Linked DNA regions of Homo sapiens. The protein of the gene in region 1 binds, or shares a complex with, the protein of each later gene. Each region holds a gene or a part of one and is shown on either strand. Other genes may lie near its edges. The genes, in order: VPS52, VPS51 and VPS54.

Region 1 (7,114 bases):
CTAAAAATACAAAATTAGCCAGGCATGGTGGCACATGCCTGTAATCACAGCTACTCAGGAGGCTGAGGCAGGAAAATTGCTTGAACCTGGGAGGCGGAGGTTGCGGTGAGCTGAGATCGCACCATCGCACTCCAGCCTGGACAACAAGAACAAAACTCCATCTCAAAAAAAAAAAAAAAAAAAAAAAAAGCTTCTGCACAGCTAAAGAAACAATAAAGTGAAGAGACAAAGAATATTTGCACATCCCATCTGCCAAGGGATTAATAACCAGAATATATAAGGGGCTCAAACAACTCTACATGACAGTCTAATAATCCTATTAAAAAATGGGCAAAAGATTTGAATAGATATTTTTCAAAAGAATACAAATGGCAAACAGACATATATGAAAAGGGGCTCACCATCACTATTATCAGAGAAATACAAATCAAAACTACAATGAGATCTCATCTCACTCCAGTCAGAATGGCTTTTATCCAAAAGACAGGCAATAGCAATGCTGGCAAGGATGTGGAGAAAAGGGAACCCTTATACACTGTTGGTGGGAATGTAGATTAGTACAAACACTTTGGAGAACAGTTTGAAGGTTGCTCAAAAAACTAAAAGTAGAGCTACCATATGATTCAGCAATCCCACTGCTGGGTATATACCCAAAAGAAAGGAAATCAGTACATTGAAGAGATATTTGCACTCCCATGTTTGTTGCAGTATTGTTCACAATAGCTAAGATTTGGAAGCAACCTAAGTGTCCATCAACAGATGAATGGGTAAAGAAAATGTGGGATATATACACAATGGAGTACTACTCAGCCATAAAAAAGAATGAGACTCAGTCATTTGCAACAACATGCATAGAATTGGAAATTATTATATTAAGTGAAATAAGCCAGGCACAGAAAGACAAACGTCATGTGTTCTCACTGATTCGTGGAATCTAAAAATCAAAACAATTGAACTCATGTACTCATGTACGAAGAGAGTAGAAGGATGGCTACCAGAGGCTGGGAAGGCTAGTGGAAGGCTGGGGAGAAGGTGGGGATGATTAATGGGTACAAACAAAAATAGGAAGAATAAATAAGACCTACTATTTGACAGCACAACAGGGTGACTATAGTCAATTATAACTTAATTGTACATTTTAAAATAACTTAGTGTAATCGGATTGTTTATAACACAAAGGATAAATGCTTGAGAGGATAGATAAAGAAAAAAATAAAATTCATTCTAAAAATAAAAAATTAGCTAGGCATGGTGGCTCGCACCTGTGGTCCCAGCTACCCAGGGGGCTAAGGTAGAAGGATCACTTAAGCCCAGGCTGTTGAGGCTGCAGTGAGCCATGTTCATGCCACTGCACTCCAGCCTGGGTGACAGAGTGACACTTTGCCTCAAAAAAAAAAAAAAAAAAAAACCAAAGACAAAATAAAATAAAATAGACCAATAATGACAGTATGTTGTGAATCAAGAGTTACAGTAATTCCGCATACCTGAGATCCATTATGCCACTCCCTACACACACACACACACACACACACACACACAGAGAGAGAGAGAGAGAGAGCTGAAAACAGCACAGAAGGCTGTCTCTTCCCTTTTCCCCACACCCCTACCTGTGTCCGAGCATTGAGCAGCTGCTGGAAGCTCTCAACCTCTTTGCTGTCATCTGCAGCCCGCTCCTAAGGGAAGACAAAGGGAAATGTCTAGTTTGGGGAAAGCAGTCCTTCACTTCAGGATGTCCCCTTCATTCCACACTTATTGTACTAAGCTGGACACTGTGCCAGACTCCAAGAGTAAAACACTGAACAAGACAGGCATCATCTCTGCCCTCACAGAGCTAACAGCAGTGGGGGAAACCGAATTTTCTGGGTAGGAAGGCAAGGAGAAGGAGCACCTATTACCATCAGCACACCCAGCATCATGTCATAGTTGTTGATCAGAAACACAAGCTGCTCCTTCCTTGAGGAGAACTCAGCTGCCACTCGGAGGACAAAATTCTCCACCTCCACCTGAAAAGGCAGAGAGGAAGAGGTGACACCAGAAAGCAAGGTCATCTGGGCCCCATCTGGCTCCTCCTCAGACTCCACCCACTGGAAGCAGCCCTGCTGCTGGGAAGTGTCTCCTGTCCGACCCTCACCTGCAGCTGTCCCAGCAATTGCATGGTCCGTTCATTAGGAATTGTCTGGTTGATACTGACAAGAGCGGAGGAGAACTCTGCATAGCGGCGTGTGATCTAGGAGAGAGTGGGAAGGAAAATCACACCCACCTCCTGGCCCAACCAACACAACCTCCCAACTTCCTTAGCCAACCCACCTCCATGTGATGTGACTCTACCTTCAGTCCCTCCTACCCACAGTGCACCACTCACCATGAGTTTCACCACCCTCCCAGAACACCTGCTCATAGCGTGGCCCATGACACAACTGTGACCTTGGCCAACCCCCACAATGATGCTTAGAGCCCTGCCTTTCAAGAACCCTTTGTTACCCTTGCCCTCCCTCACATAGTGGGGCCGAGTATCCAACCCCCCTAGGCGCTGGGGGTCAGTGCTTCGGACGCTCTGAACATTCATCTCCAGGATCAGTTCAAACCGTGGCCATAGCAAGGCAAGCACCTGTTCCCAGTACCTGTGGGCTTAATCAGAATCAGAGGTCAGCCAGCAAGGAATGTTGGAGGGGGATGGGAGGGAGTGGGGCATCATTCAGTTTAATGGTCAATAGCTAGTTGTGGGGGTTGGGGGGCAGTGGTTGGAGAAAGGTGAGTCAAAAAGCAGCACTACTGCCTCCGGAGCAAATGAATGGGAATAAAGGTTGATGATACCAGGTCAGTAGGAGTCTAAGGTCAGGGCAGAGTCATGCAAGACCAAGAGAGTTCGTGGCCTGTTGGGCATCAAGGACCAGAATTCAGTGACCTGTCCAGGGCAGGAACATCCCTCTTTGCTGCAATGTTACGGAACCGGAGAACAATGTGGATACAGAGAAAAACAGCAATGGCATCGTAGCAGTCAGCTAGATAAGAATCCAGGTGTTTCTGTGTGATTGGGGAACAAACAGAGGATTAAAAGAGAATGTCAGTTTGTTGTCCTCAGTGACTATGAACAAACGCATTTGTTTCTTTGGGGATGATGCACTGGACAGGACAGAAGGGAGAGACGTAAAATGGAACTGCCCCCTGCTTTCCTGTCCAGGATCTATGTTTTTGGCTTTTTTTTTGTTTTTTGAGATAGAGTTTCACTCTTGCCACCCAAGCTGGAATGCAGTGGCACAATCTCGGCTCACTGCAACCTCCGCCTGCCTCCCAGGTTCAAGCAATTCTCCTGCCTCAGCCTCCTGAGTAGCTGGAATTATAGGCGCCTGCCACCACGCCCGACTAATTTTTGTATTTTAGTAGAGATGGGGTTTCATCATGTTGGTCAAGCTGGTCTCGAACTCCTGACCTCAGGCGATCCGCCCACCTCAGCCTCCTAAAGTGCTGGGATTACAGGTGTGAGCCACTGCACCCGGTGTTTTCGGCTTTAGAGACAGGTTGTTTTGTCACCTAGGCTGGATTGTAATGGTACAATCATAGTTCACTGCAGCCTCAAACATCTGGGCTCAAGTGATGTTCCCACCTCAGCCTGCCAAGCAACTGGGACCATGGGTGTGTACCACCATGCCTGGTTAAGTTTATTTTTAAATTTTTTGTAGAGACAAGGTCTTGCCGCATTGCCCAGGCTGGTCTCGAACTCCTGGCCTCAAGCAACCTTCCTGCCTTGGTCTCCCAAAGTACTGGGATTGCAGGCATAAGCCACTGCACCTGGCCACACCAGGATCTATGATCACAAGCCTATCACAGCAGAGTTCAGGGCTGAGCTTGGGTCAGGGGTTTGAGCACCAAGATTTGGGGGACCCTCAGTTTTCACGTGCTATTGCCTGATTGTGGGTCAGCAGTAGGGGTAGTCTCAGGGACCCTACGCACTGAGGATTTCATGGGGGAGTAACACTGTGACAAGTCTAAGTAACAAGTTTTTTTTTTGAGATGGAGTCTCGCTCTGTCACCCAGGCTGGAGTGCAATGGCGCAATCTTGGCTCACTGCAATCTCCTCCTCCCAGGTTCAAGCAATCCTCCTGCCTCAGCCTCCCGAGTAGCTGGGATTACAGGCCGCGCACACCTGGCTAATTTTTGTACTGTTAGTAGAGACAGGGTTTCATCATGTTGGTCAGGCTGGTCTCAAACTCCTGACCTTGTGATCCTCCCGCCTCAGCCTCCCAAAGTGCTGGGATTACAGGCGTAAGCCACTGCACCTGGCTATTTTTTTTTTTTTTTTTTTTTGAGACAGGTCTCACTCTGGAGTGCATGGCTCACTGCAGCCTTGACCTCCTGGGCTCAAGCAATCCTTCCACCTCAGCATCTTTAGTAGCTGTGACCACAGGCACACATCAACACACACCCGGCTAATTTTTCATTTTTTGTAGAGATGAGGTTGTTGCCCAGGCTGGTCTCAAACTCCTGAGCTCAGGCAATCCTACTGCCTTGGACTCCCAAAGTGCTGGGATTATGGGTGTGCACTACCACGCCCAGCCAAGGCTTAGACATTTTAGAATGAGGCGATCCTGATTTCAGTTCTACCAGAGTCATGACCCCACTATGCTGCTGATGAAGACTGGGGACAAAGGTGTTGAATGGTACAGGAAACAGGAGTCTTACCAGGGTCATGCTGAGTGTACGGCCCATGACAGCATGGAACAGGTCGTGTGCAGCTGGGCCAGACACAACAAAAAATTCACAGATGAAAAGGTATTCGCGGCAGGAATTGTCTAGGAGGGCGTAGTGCTGGCTGCGGAAGAGGGCCTCAAATGGATACTGGGAGAGGAGGAGTAAAGAAGAAAAACAGAAGGGATGGACCCCAACACTGACTTCCCATGGATATGGCTGGAAAATCAGTAAACCTGAGTAATAAGAGCTAGGCAGACCCTTCGCATCTATCTAGGTCCGGGCTGTCTAAGAGCAAGCTGAATGGGCACTGAAAAGGTGGGGGAACATAGGGGTACAAAAAGGGCCTACACCCACCTGCTGTTGCTACTCCTGCATCCACCTCAACACCTGCCTCTGACTGTCATTCCCCTCATCCAGTCTCTCCCCTCTGCATGCCCTTAAGTCAATGGTTCCCAGCTCTTTTCACATCACAGCAGGCTGGAGTGATTGGAGAAGGCCACTCCCAAGTCTAAGGGGATTAAGACAGGGCCTGCAGGTTGGGAAGCTCTGCCCTGAGGTCTGGCCTTCCCTCCCCACCGTGCTCAGAGCCTCTTTCGTGACTGAAGCTTGTTCCTCCTCATACCCTCTGCTCTCCGCGCTGCGCTGTGTGAGGCACCAGGATGGGGGCCTCAAGTTCAGTGGGGGAGATGACAGAGCCGCGGGTTCCTAGGGTGAAAATGGTGTTCCTGCTGCGGAGCGATGGCTTTGAGAAGAATCGTAAGATGGGTCAGAGTCAGGGAAAACAATGAGACCATAACTGGGCCCAAAGACTCACTATCTGTGGGGACCCCAGACAGGCAGACGTGGCCTAGCCAGCCCTCTTTCCCAGTACTAGGGCCCCACGTGCTGACATCTGTGAATGGGCTTCAGGGTGTCTCTCCCTCCCTTGCAATCATATGCAAAACTATGTGTCAAAATAATGTGTGCATCTTTCTGGGGAGGGAGGCTATAGCTTTCATCACATTCTAAAAGGTTTCAGTCCCATAGGAAAAGGTAAGGAGCAGTGCATTGGTGGCTGGAGTCGAAAGTCCTCCCACTCTCAAGGCCTGGCATGAGGGTTCCCCAGTACTAGGATATCTTTCTTTGCTGTATCTTCCACACCCATTAGATCATCTTTCTCAGCGACTTCCTCATACTAAGGAAAGAGAAAAGAGAACTGATAACCGTCTCTTCCCACAACACAATAAAATATTCCTTGCCCAGGGATGTCCCCTCCTCCCAGTCCATGTGCCCAGGAATACCTCTCCCTCCTGACCTTACCTGCACCTTCATGAGCCGCCCCAGGTAAGAGCGGTAGTAAGACAGGTAAATCTTGCTCAGCGTCTCCACATATTCATCCCTGATCTCCTTTGCTGTTGCTCGTTCATTGCCCAGCAGAAACTGATAGAAGAACCTAGGGGGTCAGGAACATGTCAGTCTACCTGTCTCCCAAGAAACCAGATGCCCACACTAGGCCGCTCAAAAACTCAAAGGCCATCCCATGCACTTCCTTGGGGTTGTGACCTGTACTTCAGCAGGGCCGTCTGGGGGATCTGATAGTTGGTCATGGGTTTCCTGAAGGAATAAATCTTCTGGAGGATAAACTCTCGGATCTTCGTCACTGCCTAGATGTGGGGAACCAAACACAGGGCATGAAGCTGCAACCCTTTTGCTGTATGAGAGGAACTGGGGGAAGCAACAAATGGTAAACATAGGCAGAAGGGTGGTGAATATCTCTTTGGTATTTCTCAAGATTTTCAGGGAAACCCAGAGAGACAAGAATGGGGCTGCCCAGAAAAGGCAGGGTGAAGTCCCTGGAGACAGGCTACAGTGAGCTCTGCCAAGGAAATCCATAGTGAAGATCTTGGGAAGGCTGCTTCCAGTAGCCTCCAGGGTATCCATCCCTACTTCCCACCTTGACCCGGAGCCGATCGAGCACGCCTCTGACATCTGCGCAGGCTGCTGTGCCTCTAGCTTCCTGCTCTCTGACTGCGGCTGCCTTGGCATCCAGCTCCTGTAGCTGCTCCAAGAACCTGGGCTCTGTCACTGGAGCCTCCAGAATTGCCCTGGTTAGCAGGGAGGGGTGGGATGAGTTACAAGGGAGACCCAGACATCCCTAAACCAGACCCAGACCACACTCCTTACCTCCAGCCCCTGTCATCTCTACCACCTTGCATTGTACCATATAGTCAGGACACATGTACAAAGTTTTCTATTCCTGGACCTCCCCACTATACACCTGATCTTACATCATTCTTAATCTTAATCTTTGATGCCTAATGCATACCTAAAGAAATGGTGGTTAACCTGGCTACTAATTTCTAAAAAGCACTTAACCTGGAGCCAGGAGACCCATATGGTAAATAGGGTGGGTCACCCCAGCCCATCCACCTGCTATGGACATTAT
Region 2 (6,263 bases), on another chromosome or scaffold:
CGCTGCCTCCCAGTTCCCTTCCCAGGCGTCCATCTTAGTCCCCCGCCCCCAGGCCCCTCGAAGACCCTCCTCCTGCTCCCAGTCGACACCATAAATCCCCGTTCTGCAGCCCCCAGAACCGGCCCCTCCTCAGCTCTCCCTCTCCAGACACCCTTCGCTGCAAACCCCCGGGTCCCTCTGCCTCCGACACCCCCAAAGCCTTCCATCCTCAGATCTCGCCCCCGCTCTTAGTTCACCCGCTCCAGCTCTCCTTCGCTTAGCCTTTGCCCCAGGTCCCATCTCTCTGCCCCATTACCCAGGGGCCCTCCGAATTCCAGCGGGGCCCGGGGGCCCTGAGTGGGGGCCATGGTCTCCGCTCCGCCGGAGAGAGAGGGCGCTCACAATAGTCAGTCAAGGAAACACTGTCCGCCCCATTTCCCAGGAGATGGACTCGGCCGCGCGGAGGATCCGGCCCCGCGGCGCCTGCACCTGCCTGGACACGGAACGCAGACAAGGACCGCTCTCGTCCCAGGGTTTTTAAGTGGAACCGCCCCCTGCCCATGCTGGGCCCAGCACACCAGCCAATCGGCGCTCGGGGGCGGACCCGACGCGGGCGCCTCAGAAGCCTCAGCTTCAAAACCCCGCCCCCGGAAAGGCCCGCCCAGCAAGCGAGAGGAGGAGGCCACACATGTTTATTAGGCCGGTCCTGACACCTGCCTGCGGGGAAGGACCACCGAGACCAGATCCTGGGTGCCATGGGGTGCAGGGACAGACCGGTGCATGGCAGCGGCTGCGCCTAGCCGCGCTCGCAGATGACCTCAACCACACTGGGCTCCATGGGCACAGGGTCTGGGCAGCGCAGGGCAGCAGAGGCCACCACTTCGTCCAGCAGCAAGTGCACGAGTTCTTCGTCGGCCACAAAACGCCACAGGTAGAGCTGCAGAAAGTGGCAGTCCACTTGCACCTGCTGCAGCCCGAAGCGCCCAAAGGTGCGCAGCCGCACACACTCCAGCAGCGTCTTCAGGCTGATCTTGATGATGCCGGTCAGCACCGACACCTGCAGGCAGGGACACAGGGATGCAGCTTGGGGACTGCAGGTGTGTGTGGGGGACACCCAAGTTCCAAGCAGGGGCCCGGGAGACATACGATGGAAGTAGCTGGGATGAGGCAGAAAGTCTCCGGGGCCAGATAAGAAGGGAGGGATACAATATTAGCGCCGTCATCTGGAGGGCAGGGGACAGGTAGGGCCCAGCAATCAGAGGCATCCCTGAGCTTGGAGTGAGGCGGGGCAGGGACCATGGGTGAACAGAAAACCCTGGGGAGGACCCAAGACTACTGTGGGGATAAGGACAAGGGCAAACAGTAATCCCAGGTCAGCACCCAGACTCAGGCTGGGCATACACCAAGACTGGGACAAGGGCTGTGGGATTTGGAGGCAGGGCACTCTGTACTACCTAAAAACAGCCCTAGAGACAGAGACTGGAGGGTCAGGGTCACCCCCAGTTGGTCACAGAGTCCTGGGGCTCCTTGGGCAGGTGTGGGGCTGCTCCAGCCAACCCTCCCCGGGATCCCTGGAAGTCTGAGTCACGTTGGAAGTCGGACCTTGTTGAACTCCACAGGGCTGAACACATCAATACGTTCAGAGAATAGCTTCTGGATATTGCTCAAGAGGTTGGTGTCCATCGGGGCACTGGATTGGGGAAGACAAGGAATCAGAGCCCGCCCTGCACCCTCGCCCTCTTTTGTCCCTTCCCCCTGGGGCTCCCCTGACCAGCCAGACCTGGGGGTATAGCTGGGGGCGTAGCGGCCCTGCTGCCGAGAGCTGCTGTACACGGAGAAAGTCCTCTTGCTGGAGTCGCTGCTCTGGGCCTTGCGAACACCCTCTTCGTACAGGAGCCCCACCTGGTGGTAAAAAGAGGTACTGCAAGGAGGCCCGAGTCAGGGGAAACCACCAGCCCATCGGTGCTGAGGATGCCCTAAGTCAGCTACTCAAGCATCACAAGGATCACAGGGTAATCACCGCGGGGCCCGCTATTTAGTAGGTACATGGTCGCTATTTATAGAACCAGTGGAGTGGGGCAAAGGCAGGATACAAGAGTTGGTCTGAGGTCTAATCTTCAGCACCAGCACCAACCCTGCCCTGACTTCCTGGGTAACCCTGAGCCTCTGCTTCTCCACAGGTAAAATAGGGGCGAAGATGTCATAATCCTGGGCTGAGAAGGAACAAGACCGTGGACATAGGCACTCCCCAGCCCGTTTGGTCTTCATCCTTGGAGACTTGTTCCCCTGGGGTTCCCTCACGGACGCCCTGGCTACAGAACTGGCCCCGTGAGAAGCCCAGATACACATGTCCCCTCCTCCAGGCAGGGACTGCCAGTGATCCTCTGCTGCCCCAGCCCCTCTTGAAGGGACAGTACCCCCAGCCTGCGTCAGGGCTACCCCGGCCAGCCTGGGCAGCACCTGCACGTCGATGGCGGTGGTATCCTCCACCACCCGCTTCATGACGGCCCGCACATTCCGGGGCTCCAGAGTGCTGAGCCAGTCGCGAGTCTCCACGCTCTTGCGCAGCATCTGTGATATGACCAGGCCCTGCACCTTCACGTAGTGGGTCAGCAGCCGCCGCGCCGTTTCCCTGGCCTCTGCACACAGCGTGCTCACGGGCGTCACTGGGAACTGATCCTGAGCCAAGGAGGCAGAGGACAGAGGGAGTGGGTATGGTGGGGGCAGCTCAGGGGCCACTGCCAACCAGGAGCTGGGCACAGATTGGGCAAGGTGGAGGCTGGGGTACACACAGGCAGCTGGTCTGGGGTCTGGCCATGAGGGCACTGTCCAGCCATCTGCATTCCCAGCAACACCATTCCCTGCCCGGCTAGGAGCTAGTGCTTCACCTGCACCAGAAACTGTTCATCAGTGAGAGTGAGGATGTAGGAGATGGTGGCCGTCTCGTAGTCCAGGCAGAGGCGGGAGAGCAGCAGGAGCAGGGCAGGTGGTGTGGCACCCCCCTTCTCCCCAGGGCTGTCGCAGAAGCTCTGAGCCGTCTGGCACATAGAGTGGACGAAGCCCACGATGAGGCCCTCACGGACACCCTGACTGCAGAACTCACCCTGCAAGAGAAGGTGCCCAGGTCCACAGCAGGTCCCCTCTTCCAGGTAAGGCTGTTAATGACCCTCTGCTGGGGCTCTAAGTGCCCCAGCCCCCTCTGCAAGGGACAGCATCATCCTACATTCTAAGTACCCCGGAGCAGCTTCCCTGAGTGGGGGCAGAGAAAGCCAACACTGGGGACCCCACCATGCCCTGCTTCTCAGCCCAGCTGCAGATGCCCTGAGCCTTCCCCACCCCCCAGACCGTGCATAAGAACCTGAAACCACACCCAGAGTGCCTGGTTTCCCCAGTTTCCCAAGCACTGGCATAAAAGGTTTTGGAGGGTCAACCAGCAGGTTGAACAAGGAACACCCAAGAGGAGGCGTACCCGGAAGTAGGGCTTGTTGGAGAAGGACACCTCTTTGGCGGTGAAAAGGTGCACTGCTGCCAGAGAGGCCTTAATGTGGCTCAGGATGGAGCTGGCCACATTGGCCAGCAACTCGGCCAGGCCAGGGCCCTCCTTCCCAGCCACGCGAGGTGCTGCCAGCGCCTGGCGGACGTCTGTCAGGCAGCCCAGGAAGGCCGCCCGGAGACCCTGCAGGTGGTGGCCCAGGCGCTCGCGGGCCACTCGTTCCACGATCTCCGTGGCAGCGTCTGCGAGCCCGGCAGCGGCCAGCAGGGCCCCGGGAGCCCGCAAGCGCCGGTGGAAGCGGTCCAGCGCCCGCACCAGCAGTGAGTTGTCACCACCACCCTGCTCCTGCGCCAGCCGCCGCTCCACCAGCGCAAAATAGCGGCTGCCCAGCTGCCGGGCGAAGGCCGCCAGCTTCTCGGCACCTGCTGGGCCCTGGGCCGCAAACAGCTCCTGGTAGGCCGCCGCCACCTGGCAGAGGCCGCCCACGAAGCCACTGCCTCCATGGTCGGTGAACTCTAACACGTCGGGAGCCGGAGGTGAGGGCCCCAGCTCGGCCTCCAGGTTTCTCAGCTCCTTCTCCAGCCGGCCGCGGGCGTGCGCCAGGAACTCCTCGCACAGCTCCTCCGCAGGCTCGCCCAGGGCCAGCAGCAGCTCCACGCACTCTGCCTGCTCCGGGGCGCCTGAGCCGCCCTCCCTGCACGAGGGAGAGGTAGTGAAGGGCAGGGCCGGGGCTGCCGGTGGATGGGGCAGGAGCAGGAAAGCAAAGCACACACAGGGCAGGGGGACAGCTCCAGGAGGGCCCAGGAGCCGGGCACAGATGGGGCTCGGGGCTGGCGGGAGCGCTGGGGTCAGGGCAGAGGGGCCACACCTAAAGCGCTGCCGCAGCTGCTGGGCCAGGCGGGCCGTGATGACCTGGCAGTCGTCCTGGATGGCGCGGAACGAGGGCAGGTGTTGGTACTGCTGCAGCACGGCCTGCGCGCGGCCCTGGTAGCGCACCGCCTGCCCATAGGCGCCCAGTTCCACGCACTTGGTGAGGCGCGAGGGCAGCTCAAAGAGGAACTGCAGCTTCCGCAGCAGCGCGTGGACCCCTGGGGGACGGAGGGTGACGTTAGCCCCAGAGCCCCAGGAAAGGCCCACTGCAGGCCCTGCCCGGCAGCGCCCACCTGCCAGCTTGGTGATGCGCTCGTGGCGGTCCTGCAGCGTGGCGCTGATGCGAGCGCTGAAGTCGGTGATCACTGCCATGTTGGTGGCCAGCCGGTCCATCTCATCCTCCATCTTCCGGAAATCGTTCTTCATCTTCCGGATGGTGTCTAGGAGGGCAGGGGCGGGGAAAAGGGGAGAGCAGGTGACTGCAGGGCGGGCGCAACCTCAGCTCCTTCTCACCCACCCCTTCACAGACGCCCCAGCTTGCTCCAGGGGCGCATGGATGATTCCAGAGAAAGGACTGCGAGGGCGTGGGTCACAGCGCACATGGGGGCGGGGGAGGGGGTTTATGTTCCCAAAGCAGGCGTTACTCACATACTCCCCGTAACCCCCTAACCCTGGTGCCCAGGAGAGCCGGCCCTCAGAATTAGTCCAGATCCGAAGCAGGCCGCAGGTGCTTAGCCAGCTGCCACCACTGTGCCTCAACTGCTCCATCAGACCACAAGCAGCCAAGGCAGGGACCGCTGGCTCCCAAGCGCATCTGCGTGTCCAGCGCACTGCCTGGATGAGGCAATACATTCTTGTTGACCCTCATCTCCTTTCCAGACCTCCCAAAGCCTTTCACATGCTTTCCGGAACATGGGCTGTCTTCTCTGAAGGGCCCTTTCCCTTTGGTCCTGATAGAATCCTGCCTAGGGAGGCTGTTTTTCCTTTCACACACCAGGTGCCTGGGAGCCTGGTCCCTTCATGCTTCTAAATCATGCCTAGATCTCCTCTCTTCAAAACCCCGGCTTCTAGGAAGACCATGCCATCAAGCCACAACCCTCCTCTTTGCTGTCTCTACTGTCCTCTGACACTCCTCTCAGTTCCCCATCACTGCCTCTTCTCCTCCTCCTGTCACCTCCTTGTGCACATCCACATGGATGAGCCTTCCAATGTTCCTGACTGTTCACTGACGGCCTCAATTCAATTCCACCTATTCTTTTTTTTTTTTTTTGAGACTGAGTCTCGCTCTGTCGCCCAGACTGGAGTGCAGTGGCACGACCTCTGCTCACTGCAAACTCCAATTCCCAGGTTCACACCATTCTCCTGCCTCAGCCTCCCAAGTAGCTGGGACTACAGGTGCCTGCCACCACACCCAGCTAATTTTTTGTATTTTTAGTAGAGATGGAGTTTCACCATGTTAGCCAGGATGGTCTTGATCTCCTGACCTCATGATCCGCCCACCTTGGCCTCCCAAAGTGCTGGGATTACAGGCATGAGCCACCGCACCCGACGAGGTCTGATGGTTTTATAAGGGGCTCTCCCTGCTTCGCTTAACACTTCTCCTTCCTGCTGCCTTGTGAAGAAGATGCCTTGCTTCTCTTTCACCTTCTGCCATGATTGTAAGTTTCCTGAGGCCTCCCCAGCCATGCTGTGAACTGTGAGTCAATTAAACCTCTTTCCTTTATAAGTTACCTAGTCTCGGGCAGTTCTTTACAGCAGTATGAACCTGGATTAATATACCTAGTAATCAATCCATTACCAAGTCATGGAAGGTCTACCTGCAACATTTTCTTTGTAAGCCACTATCATCTCTTGTCCAACAACTGCCAACATTTCCCAACTAATTTCCCTAATTCCATTGAACATACCAACAATGTTCATA
Region 3 (5,893 bases), on another chromosome or scaffold:
TAAACTGGTTTATTGTTGTTAGACAGTTACTATATTAGTTGGAAGATTTGCCCTTTAAGTACACACTGGCTAGTTACCTAGCCAGTGTGTACTTAATGAGTCCAGTTTTTGGCATTTCTAAGAATCTTAATCATACCATTATTTCCACAGGAATTAAACTGAAGGTATTTTCTTTAGTACCTACCTTTCATCTAGTTCTAAAACTGGGATGCCTGCCATGCTTTCCACAAACTCTCCATTTATTGAAACAAAGTGGCATTTATTTTCCCAGCTGACGGGGGTGGGCAAAGGGAAGGCATTTCTTCACATCCTTGTACTCTTCTATAGTGAGGTAGGGGGTATAGCTTCATAAAAAGTTCCCTTTCCCTGAAGCTTCATTTCCTGAAGCTTGTTTATTATCACTGAAAAAATGATCATTAATAATCTTTCCATTCAGGTCTGCTGGTAGTTCAATTTATGCCTTTTCTTTAAATTCATCCATACTTGTTTTGAGTAGGCTGCTTGTTTAAAGTTCACAATATACCACTTAAAAAAAAGTTGCCTTTTAAAGTCTGTTAATTTTTTACAGCTTTATTTTAGACAGATAGTTTAAGAACCAAAGACATACCTCTGTAATGATAAAGGAAAGAAAACAAGCTTTCCTTTTAAGAAACCAAAGAGCACAAAATAAGACTGTTTCATTATACATAATCACCACAGGATATTAGGCACTCTGACAGGGTTAGGCAAGATTCTTGGTGTGAGGTGAAGCACAGGCACTTTATTTGTACAGTGCTGCTGATTCTAATTTTGAAGGTAGGTATTATAAAAGTCTTTACTTGTCACCTTATTTCTGGCCCCAACACAGCAGCCTATAGTTTTAAAAGTTCTGTTTCTCCCTGGTCTTTGTTCGTATACACATCGAAAGTAACTTAAAAACAAGGATCCAAGGGGGCCATACTTCATATGTTATCTAAATGTTAATATGAGAACTCAAAAGTAGGCAGATTATATGAATACATATTCTTACCTCTGCTACAAATAAAAACACCCCAAACCCTTCATCATACTTTTATAAAAATACAGATATTAAACTGTAGCCTTTTATATACCATTTCTGAAAAGTATTTAGTTGCATAAATAGATGCCAGGATCTTTTTTTTTAAGTATTAATTACTTAAAAAAAGGCTTAAGTCTTTCAGGTATTTAGAGAGCTCTGGAAGGCTTTACCCAGTTGACATACGGTGGTAGTAGAAATATTAAATATGCAACACACAAAGCCTGCAACTTGACATTGGTCACTGAAACAAAAATTGAATTCCTAAATCCAAGCAATCAAAAGATGTTTATTTTTTATAGAAAGATCTGTAAAAAAATAATAATTTTTCAAACAGCTTTACTTTCATAGAGAAAACTTTCTACAGAAGTTGACTAAGATTTTAAATTGTACCATCATTAAATAAGGTGGGACACCATATGAATTTCATTGCACTGGAAGAAATGCAAAGCATTTTTTAATATAAAGTATACAGAGCATTCTAGTCAACTACAGCTGTGTTACAGCTATGTGTTCTTTTGGATTTGGTCCAAAGAAACCTGAGTCTGTTTCCAGAGAGAATGAAAAATGTTATAGACACCTGATCAGTTACTCCTCACTGTAGGATGCACAAAAATGACATTCCTTGTAGATCCCACTGAATCCAGTTTCCCAACACTTGATACTTTCCTTTTTCCCTTCCCCCACCCCAGTTCACTTTGGGTTTCAGGTTCAATTCTCGAATCACAGGCATCCAGATTTTCTTCATAACAAACACATCCCATGGTCAGATGAACTACCCAGTTTTCCAGGATGACATCACCTCTTCTGCTCCCAAATTTCGGCCATATTTAGGTCCAAATCTTTAAGGCCTTTTAAGGCTTGAAGATTTCCAGTGTAAAAAGCTACATCTGCTGTGACCAACCTAAATAATGGAGAGAAAATTATTTTTTAAATCTCAAACTTTCTATTCAGATAATTAAAGTAACAGTGCTCACCGAGTCAGAGTCCTATTATCTAAAATTCAGATTTCTTAGTGCCCAAGTGTCCAAATACTTTACTTAGCAGGATTCCTGCTATGAATAAGTAGGCCATTTAATGCTGTACTTCAATAATAAATATTTGGAAAATGAATAAACCAATGGCTGTTAGAGTCAGTTTCATGATAAATTCAGCCCAAGAAAATCAGATTTATCTTGAAACAGCATGAATTAATATACAGAGAAAATAACAGGCTAAACTAAAATGTTTTTGATTGGTTAGCACTAGAGTATGGGAGTGCTGACTAAAATAGTAAACTCAAGGGAAAAGCAGGCTAGGTTTCTAAGTGTCATCTAAGGCGTTAAATACAGACTAGTATTCATGTATATAAGCGATACTGGATATTTCTTTAAAAACCCAAGAGAAAAATAGGAAAGAACATAAGAAGTCACAGATGAAAACACCTGAATAACCAATAAACTGAAAAAATGGTAAACGTCAGGAAAATGCAAATCAAAACAAGGTACTACTATCCCCCATCAGACTAGCAACAATTAGGAAATCTAACAGCAAATGTTGAAAAGATGTGGGAAACAAATTCTCACAAACTACTCCACTAATGTGGGAGTTGGTACAGCCACTGTCAATACCTAACAATATGAAAAGTGTATTAGCTCCAATTCACTTATAGGTATATGCCCTGAAGAAATGGTCACACCATTAGACATGTATAAAGATCTTCAGTATGGCATGGTTATAATGGAAAAAAGTAATGACTTAGCAATTTATCACTAGGGGAAATGTCTAATTTATCTATGGCTGATTCATGGCCAGGAGCAGTGGCTCACACCTGTAATCCCAGCACTTGGGGAGGCTGAGGCAGGAGGATCACCTGAGCTCAGGAGTTTAAGACCAGCCTGGGCAACATAGTGAGACCTCGTCTCTACAAAAAATTAAAAAAATTAGCTGGGTGTGGTGCCACACACCTGTAGTCGCAGTTATTGGGGAGTCTGCAGTGGGAGGATTGCTTGAGCCACGGAGGTTGAGGCTGCAGTGAGCCATGATCACACCACTGCCCTCCAGCCTGTGTGACCATGAGACCCTGTCTCCAAAAAAAAAAAAAAGGTTGTTTGATGGAATACTGTACAGCAGTCAAAAACAGACTACTAAACATATATCAACATAGATAAATCAGTAAAAATGCCTAGTAGAAAGCAAGCTGCATATATGCAATATACCATATAAGTAAATTTACAAAACAGCACTACATATTTTTCATAAATCTAGGTACAATAAATAAGACTAAAAGAATGTAGACTAAATTCACTGGAAATGTTACCTAAAGGCTGGGAGAAAAAGGGAATCGGACTGCAGATGGGGTGTAAAGGTGTACTTAGCTTCATCTGGAATGCAATTTTTTGAATACCATTTTAAAAATACAATAAATATTTTTTTCAAGAGAAAATGACAAATGTTGATCAATTCTGGGTAGTAGAAATATAAATAATTTATTATTCTCTGTATGTGTCTATTTTTAAAATATCTTAGAGGAAAAAAAATCACATTAAAAAGTACAGAGCTGGGCCGGGTGCAGTGGCTCATACCTATAATCCCAGCACTTTGGGAGGCCGAGGCAGGCAGATCACCTGAGGTCAGGAGTTTAAGACCAGCCTGGCCAACATGGTAAAACCGTCTCTACTAAAAATACAAAAAGTAGCCAGGCGTGGTGGCACGTGCCTGTAATCCCAGCTACTTGGGAGGCTGAGGCAGGAGAATTGCTTGAACCTGGGAGGTGGAGGTTGCAGTGAGCTGAGATCACGCCACTGCGCTCCAGCCTGTGTGACAGAGTGATACTCCATCTCAAAATAAAATCAAAGTACAGGGCTGGGGAGAGGGAGAAATAGGAAGCAGCTGCCTAATGGGTACAGGATTTTCTTTTGGAGTAGTGAAAATGTTTGGAACTAGATAGAGGTGGCGGTTACGCATCACTGTGAAGACACTAAGTGCCACTGAATTGTTCACTTTAAAATAGTTAATTTTATGTTATGTGAATTTCACCTCAAAAAAAGTCAAAAGCTACATTTTTAGAGCAATTTCAGAAACAAAAACTTTTAAGCAGGTAGTTTATGTCCTTGGCTACAGGGTAGAGGTTAATCTTCAGGGATATTTCAAAGACATGAATTGACTTATAAAGAATGAGTTTCTGTTAGCATGTGACAGTGAGGATTCTCTAAGGTCAGACTGACTTCCAAATAGCTATATTAAGAAAGAAAAGTAACAGCTAACGAGTTAGCTTGGGTGCTTCAGAACTACTGGTCTACAAAAACCCAACTAACCAACCCAGATTTAGTTATGGGAATAAAAGTAAAAGGGTATGAGCAGGGTTAGGCCTTAAAAATATTATTAGCTTTTTTTGAACAGCCTCTTTAAGGTACCCAGTATACATCTCTACCAAGAGTCTCCTAAGTTTCTAATATGCTATTATCTTTTCAGGAGCAGGTCTCTTATGTATGTACCATTTGTATCATCTGACATCAAGTGAGAGATATACACAGCGTCACCACATGTGATGTTCTTGCTGAAAATATCTGACTCTATGTTGGTATAACGCTATTAATGTTGATTTTCTTAGGTGGGGTTCAGGTATTACGGTTGTATAAAAATGTCCTTGTTTTTAGAGACACATGCCAAAGTATTTAAGGGTTAAATTTTATGACTGCAGCCTACTTTTTTGGTTGTTTGTCAAAAGGGAGGTATGGGGGTGGGAGGGAGAAGGAGCAAAAGTGGCAGAGAGTATGTGGCAAAATTTTAACAGTTGATAAATCTAGGTAAAAGCTATTCAGTGTTCATTATTGTCCTTTAAGTGTTCCATGGCTTTGAAATTTTTGAAAACAAATAATTCTTTAAAAAGAAAAAGAAGAATCAGATAATAAGACTATCATTCTTGCATAAAACTCTTAAATTCAGCCTAACAGATTCAACAGAATGAAGCTTTCACATAGCTCTTTGCAAAATTGATTCACTGTACTTCTTCTTAAATGGCAGGGCCAACTTCTGACCCCAACATACATTTTTTTCATTTTCCATTTGTTCTTATAAGTTTGAAATTTGAGCCTGAAATTCCTTTAACAGGAAATAAAATTTTATTCCTAAAAACCCTAGAACACTAAAGAATTGATATTAATACGTAACTAAATGATCAGTGCTTTAAATTTTATAAAATCTCTTCCCCATATCTTTATCTACATAACTCTTCAAAAAATCCTATTAAGGAAACTTTTATCATCATCCCTATTTTCAAATCTAAAAAACCTAAGCTGAGGGGGAGTAAGTGATTTGCCCAAAGTTACAACAGCTAGTAAGTGACAGAACTAGAACTTAACCCAAGTTTTCAGATTCTAAGTCCTACCCTATGCTTTCTATGTACTATGCTATTTTACAGTAATATATACAATCTTTCAATAGCTTACAATAAAATATATACATATACACACATATATTATTTTTCATAACCCTGTGAAAGAATTAAGACAGATTTCATCCTTGTTATTTTATAAATGTGGCACACAGGTTAAGTGACATTCACATGGTCACACAGTAGGACTTCTGAATCCTGTTTGGAATAGGGAAAGCTATTGGGTAACTAAGGAAGTGCTACTAATTCACACTGCCTCAAAACAGATACATAACGTCAGGTAAGCAATTGTCCATGTATAAACCCCTTTTAGATAGTTAGATAGAAACAGATATTTCCACAGGGGAAAAAAAAAACACAAAAGCTTGCTGATTTTACAACGTTGGTCTTCAGTGTGATTACAGCAGAAAAGGATGGCACAAATAATCAAAACTGATCATTAAAACAATTCGATATGGGAGTATATGGTGAAAACGTTAAAA

What was found.
Region 2: VPS52 (region 1) and VPS51 share a complex: the UniProt entries of both Homo sapiens proteins name them as parts of the endosome-associated retrograde protein (EARP) complex.
Region 3: VPS52 (region 1) and VPS54 share a complex: the UniProt entries of both Homo sapiens proteins name them as parts of the golgi-associated retrograde protein (GARP) complex.

The regions. Positions count from the first base shown.
Region 1 is NC_000006.12:33,261,877-33,268,990, forward strand, and holds part of VPS52 (vacuolar protein sorting-associated protein 52 homolog), read right to left. Parts: intron 6,774-7,114; coding exon 6,623-6,773; intron 6,333-6,622; coding exon 6,232-6,332; intron 6,122-6,231; coding exon 5,989-6,121; intron 5,864-5,988; coding exon 5,806-5,863; intron 5,446-5,805; coding exon 5,312-5,445; intron 5,198-5,311; coding exon of another isoform or gene 5,132-5,197; exon of another isoform or gene 4,856-5,131; intron 4,837-4,855; coding exon 4,681-4,836; intron 3,025-4,680; coding exon 2,906-3,024; intron 2,622-2,905; coding exon 2,498-2,621; intron 2,228-2,497; coding exon 2,132-2,227; intron 2,004-2,131; coding exon 1,896-2,003; intron 1,674-1,895; coding exon 1,608-1,673; intron 1-1,607. UniProt on the Homo sapiens protein: Acts as a component of the GARP complex that is involved in retrograde transport from early and late endosomes to the trans-Golgi network (TGN).
Region 2 is NC_000011.10:65,106,100-65,112,362, reverse strand, and holds the end of VPS51 (vacuolar protein sorting-associated protein 51 homolog), read right to left. Parts: intron 4,783-6,263; coding exon 4,636-4,782; intron 4,561-4,635; coding exon 4,341-4,560; exon of another isoform or gene 4,339-4,340; intron 4,167-4,338; coding exon 3,449-4,166; intron 3,084-3,448; coding exon 2,868-3,083; intron 2,659-2,867; coding exon 2,440-2,658; intron 1,882-2,439; coding exon 1,760-1,881; intron 1,670-1,759; coding exon 1,582-1,669; intron 1,037-1,581; coding exon 776-1,036; 3' UTR 501-775; downstream 1-500. Other genes in the region: delta(14)-sterol reductase TM7SF2, read right to left, coding at 296-347. UniProt on the Homo sapiens protein: Acts as a component of the GARP complex that is involved in retrograde transport from early and late endosomes to the trans-Golgi network (TGN).
Region 3 is NC_000002.12:63,891,596-63,897,488, forward strand, and holds the end of VPS54 (vacuolar protein sorting-associated protein 54), read right to left. Parts: intron 1,941-5,893; coding exon 1,835-1,940; 3' UTR 555-1,834; downstream 1-554. UniProt on the Homo sapiens protein: Acts as a component of the GARP complex that is involved in retrograde transport from early and late endosomes to the trans-Golgi network (TGN).